Linked DNA regions of Homo sapiens: region 2 is linked to region 1. Evidence: fine-mapped expression QTL. A gene starts in region 1. The other region holds a variant in brackets. All regions are shown on one strand. Distances are between the middles of the regions.

Evidence for each region. PIP is the estimated chance that this variant, and not a neighbour inherited with it, causes the effect.
Region 2: its variant is the best candidate, but not a certain one, in a credible set for the expression of HIVEP2 in CD4 T cells (CEDAR, PIP 0.88).

The regions. Positions count from the first base shown.
Region 1 is chr6:142,943,626-142,946,411 of GRCh38, forward strand. HIVEP2 (HIVEP zinc finger 2) reads right to left here and starts at 1,551. Exons shown (of 10, transcript NM_006734.4): 1 at 1,474-1,551. RefSeq lists silencers at 1,181-1,250, 1,391-1,490, 1,691-1,920, 2,151-2,780.
Region 2 is chr6:142,826,944-142,829,729 of GRCh38, forward strand. All of the region lies in intron 2 of HIVEP2 (HIVEP zinc finger 2), which reads right to left. Among named protein-coding and RNA genes, the nearest start is that of HIVEP2, 120 kb to the right of the region's middle. The variant T/C (reference allele first, on the strand shown) is at 1,105.

The DNA of each region.
Region 1 (2,786 bases):
GCGAGTACCAATATTCATTTGGAGGTAAATTGAGTTATTTTTAAAATGGCAGAAAAGGAAGGAGAAAAATCAGCTCAAATTTTCCATTATAATGAAAGTACAGGAAACAAGCCTTTCTATATTCATTTTAGGCCTAAATAACTCTGCAGAGAATAAGGGTTTTGCAATGTCAGTTGCACACACAACTTCCTGTGTGAATGCTAAGCCATTACAGGTGTCCTAAGGCCTCCAGTGAAACCTATTATCAAGAGATTCCTCTGGTCTCCTCGAAGTCATCCCCAGCGCCCCCCATCCGCCGCCCACACATTATTGCTTCTCTCCTCCAAGTGTCTTGATTAAGGACCCTCTCTCTTCTCCGCACTCCCGAGGTTAAAGTGCCCCCGTTCCCTTGGTGTAGCTAGTTACAAGCTTTCCCGTTAGGGAAGACTAGTGCCTGCAGTCCTTTTTAGTTAGATGCTTTTAAGTCAGAGATGAGAGGAGCCACTTGAAGAAACCCTCCTTCCCTTCTTCCTTTCCCCCACTGGGAACCAAGTCCCTGAAGGACAACACCCAGGGACGCTTCCTGACCTTCTATCCCCTCACCCAATTTGGGCTTGGAGGGTTGGGGTCGCATTTTCTCATGTCCTCTGCTGCACTGGATGTGTTATGTAAGAGGGACAGAACGCGGGAGGCACATGCGTATAAAGCGCACCGATCTGTGATAACAGCTGGGGTAGCAGAGCGGATCTGGAGTCCACCCCCCCCCCCCACCAAATACGACAGACCCCACACATGCACATCAGCACCCCCTCCCCCACACACCCACACACACACACACACACGCACACACCCAGAGCAATGTTTTCCTGTCTCACCCCTACCAGTACCAGAGGCACAGAATGGAAAGGCGGGGGGTGGGGGTGAAAGGAGGTGAAAGAGGAGGAGGAGCAGCAGCAGCACATCTGCTTTGATAGCAGCCGGCAGTGCCGCCGCGGCAGAGAGCCCCTCGTTAACCCCCTTCCTGTGGCTGCACCACGTCATGGAACATTCCCGGAACGGGCCAACGTTCCACCCACTTCAGGGAACAGACATAAAGGCGCAGACCCAGTTCCCCACAGTGCACAGCCCAAACACACATGTCCCTTCCCGATCCCCCGCCAGACGGACAGACAAACACGCATGCAAACCGCCCCCACCCGTCTCCACGCGCCCGGGTCCAGCCGGCAGCGGCCAGAGCCGCTCTGCAGCCGGTGCACCCGCAAGGCGAGGGCGCCTCCGCCTGAACCTTCCATCGAGACAGTCCCCTCCTTCCTCGCTTCCTTCCTTCGCTCCTTCCTTCCTTCCTTCCTTGCCCGGGAGGTAAAGGGAGTCACTGAAATGCCCAGAGCCAGCGCCTTCGCTGCGCTCGCTCGGCCGCAGGCCGGCGGCCCGGGCCTCGCGCCGCCAGCCCGCCCGGCCGCCTGCGCCGCGCGCCGCGGCCCCCTCCCCCGCTACCTGACAACGGGCCGCCGCCGGCCGCCGCAGCCGCAGCGGTGGCCGGGCCGTGCGCGCCGGTGCACGTCGCTCATTAGTAAGCAGGCACATTCCTGCCTCCAGCGCTCCCGCGCGGCCCCCTCCCCCCAGGACATTACGCAAAGCAGCCTCCCCTCATCTGCATAGATCCGCGGCCAGGGTATTCCCCGCATTTCCCCACGCGCCCGACACCCCTCCCGCGGTCTCCCCCATCCCCGCCCCCTCCGACCCTCACCCTCGGGCCACCGGGAAGGGGCTGGGGGCACACGCCGGGGAGCGGGGGACGGAGTTCGGCGGCGGCGATTCCAATATAAAGTGAAACAAGCTCCCAGCGCCGAAGGAGGCAGGAAAAACCCAGCGTCCAGGCCACTTACCGAGCCGAGGAGGGACCTAGATTCCCGCCGCTCCGCTCTCGCGGTGGCCGGTCCGCCCTCCGCGCACCCCGAGGCTGCACCCAGCACCCCAGACGCGAGACGTGGAGGAACGCTGTGAACGAGCCGGGAGACCCTCCAAGTTGCTCTGGGCTCCGTGGAGCGTCAAGGTCCAAGACACAACTTGGCAAAGACTTGTGCCACAGTCACCGAAGATGTTTGTGCGGAGACCCTCCTGCGGGGAACGACGGCGCTCGGCGGCGCCCCGCTCTCCTCCTCTCCACCCCCTCACCTCCAGCCCGCCTCCCGCCGGCCGCCCGCCTCCGGGCCGCGAGCCCCTCGGGCGGCTGTCAGCTCCCGGCCGCCGCCGGGTGACAGGGGCGGGAGGAGGGCGCGACGCGGCGGCCCGAGCCCCAGCGGGCGAGGGGGATCCTCGCAGCCGCGGCGGCCGCTCACCTGGAAAGTCACCGCTGAGGAGGAGGAGAAGGAGGACGGGGAGGAGGAGGGAGAGGAGGAGGGGGAGGAAACCCCCCTGGTGCCCTTGTTCTCGCTGCCGCGGCGGCCGCTCCTCGCCAAGGCTGAGCGTGTCTGGTGGGGGGTGTCTGGTAGCATTTCCTTAAGGACAGAGGGAGGGCGGGCGCGGAGGGAGGGAAAAGATCCCGACCGCCAGCCCAGGCTCCTCTTGCCTTTATTTATTTTTCTGACACTGTACGGAGATGGGCCCGGGGCAGGGGCCGCCGGGCTCAGGCGGGAGCCGCGAGGCCCGGGCCGCAGCTGTCTGCGTGCGGGAGCCGCAGCGGCCGCCTCCCCTCCCGGGCTGTGGACGCACCGGGTTATTCCTGGCAGCGCCTCCCCGAACAGAAGTTACTAGGAGGAGTGCGCGGCGAGGGCGGACGGGGGGAGAGGCGGAGGGAGGGAGGGAGG
Region 2 (2,786 bases), 120 kb before region 1:
ACGTTTGTGGATTGAGTGATCAAGTGAATGGATGAATGAGTGAATGAATGATTGTAAACACGCTCACTCTCCATACTCATGTACTTTTGTGCCTTTGTGGGGTTTAGGAGCAATTGCTTCTTCTTCCATTCTACTACTCCTGTTAATTTCTCTCTTGTTATTCCTGTTAAATTATAGGATGGTTTGATACAATTTAAAATACCCCTTTGTAATAATATGGGTACCTCTGTGAAAGTTCTTTTATCAAGCCCGGTTGGCTATATAATTGCTTGAAAAAACAAAAACCAACTAAACATAACCATGATATAAATTTCACCCCTTTACATTTTATAATAATAGGCTGTTCATCTTAACAAAGCAATTTCTGAATTTTTCTTTAACAAGCTCTATTATTATTCCTAAAGTTTCAATTATTAATAGTATCCCTATCACCTCCTGCTAGCATATTGCACCCCTGCCCTGTGTTTCCTCAGGCTGGGTGTGACAAAGTACGCCTGCATATGACTGTGTGTTTTGTCTATGTACTGGCACATAAATATCCTTGAGGACAGGAAAAGAACTGGTGTATGTGTCTGTGTGCGCGCACGCACGTGCACGCACTTCCCTGGATTGTTCTCCATGGAAATCTCCCTCCAGATGGGAAAAGAGCCAAGGAGAGCCCGAGGACTTCCCTGACCCTAAGCCAAGGGTGTGGCAAGTGTGCTCACCATTATCAGCTGGTGCCCAAAGGGAAGGAGTGGGAAGGAGGAAGGAGGTAGCAGGGAGGAGGAGGAAAGCTGGTAGTAAGTGTGGAGATCTTTTAATTGCAAGAAAATAATCTGGGAGCCTAACATTTTTGCAGTATTTTAAAGTGTGCAAAGACTTCACAGGACTAGCACATTCTCAAATGACACCTCTAAGACCAACCCAAGCATAAAGATCTTCTGAGGCTTATATAAACTTTGCCCATTAAGGAGAAGTCACAGAAACAGTGCAGGCTTTTCCTCACTGGTGTACTTATGTACTCAAGATAAGTAATAACCTTTAGAATGTTTTCATCCTGTGTTTGCTGTGTTTTCAGCTATATTTCTATACTGAAACCTCTTCAAATTCACACAGCATTCT[T/C]AAATTGCCAAATCCATTGGTCCTTTCTTAGATCACAACATTGGTGATGACTTTGCGGCATGATACGCTGAACACTCCCTTAAATATAAAGCTCTAAGCTCAAGATCTGACATACCCTAGGCACTCAATAAGTAAGAGCTACTCTTGTCAGCGAGCTCCTCCTCCCTTAGCTTCCTTGAGACTTGCCTCTGTTAGTTTTCCAGCTACATTTCTGACAGTTAAAGTACTTTGGAATCTTTTATCTGATCTTCAAAGCCCAGACAAAGTGTTTTCCCCCAATAAACTTCCCCACTTTTGCAGTGTCAGAATTAATGCCACTCTCTCGTGTTCTCATAATCTTTGCTCAACTCTCATTATCTCACTAATCATGGCCTGCTTTGGATTTTAGTTGAGCTAATTTTTTTTTTTCAAGACAGAGTCTTGCTCTCGCTTAGGCTGGAGTGCAGTAGAGCGATCTCAGCTCACTACAACCTCCACCTTCTGGGTTCAAGCCATTCTCCTGCCTCAGCCTCCCCAGTAGCTGGGATTTCAGCCATATGCCACCATGCTTGGCTAATTTTTGTATTTAGAGATGGGGTTTCACCATGTTGGTCAGGCTGGTCTCGAACTCCTGACCTCGTGATCCACCCGCCTCGGCCTCCCAAAGTGCTGGGATGACAGGTGTGAGCCACTGCACCTGGCCTGAGAACATATTTTATATCCCCAACTAAATTTTCAGCTACTTGAGAACAGGACCATTCTTATTTCTCTCAATACTGAGCACAATGTCTTGCACATGGCTGGCTTTCCATAAATGTTGGTTGATTTAAAAGTTGACAACAGATATTAAATTGAATCTTTAACTGCTTCCTGTTTCCCACCTTTCATAGCCAATCCCAAGCCAAAGCCTATAGAATATTCATCTACAGTATCTCTCCCAAACCCTCTTTATATTCCTATTATGGTCATCCTAGTTCAGAACTTTACTACCTCTTATGGAGACTATCCCAATAGCTTCCTAATTTGCCTCCCTCCAGGTTTTCCAGTTCTTCTTGGTGATGCCATCTGTGGTGAGCAGATTAATCTTTCAAACTATAACCCAATCATGTGATTCCTTAGCTCAAAAGTGGGTAAAGTTTTTCTAATGCCTACCAAACTGATGTGCTAATTACATTCCAGACGTTCTATACTCTCTAGGTCTCTCGGTTCCTCCCTTCCTCTTCTTTCATGTCTCCTCTTCGCTTACCAATGTTATGTTCCAAACATACCATATGACTTTTCCTTCCATAATCACCCCAACTTTATCCATCCCAACACTTTACGTAGGTGAATATCATTCTCGCCACCTATCAAAACCTTGCACATCCTTAAAGCTGTCCTCAGGAAATACTTCCTGCTCCCCAAGCCCTCTACCCAAGCAAACCCATAAGAAAATTGATACGATTTCTTTCTCTTCACAAAACATTTTATTTATACATCTCTGAGGACCCTAGTACAAGTTTTCTTATATCCAAGTCAGGTATGTACTAGTCCGATTTCTATTTTAGGTAGGGTTTATAAGCAACTTGAAGGCTGAAATGCAGACTTACTCATCATTGTATTCCTCCACAGCACCAAAACACTACATTGCATATGGCAGAAATGCCATAAATATTCATTGAGTTTAAATGAACTAAAGCTTTTAAAAATAGCCAAAAAAGCTC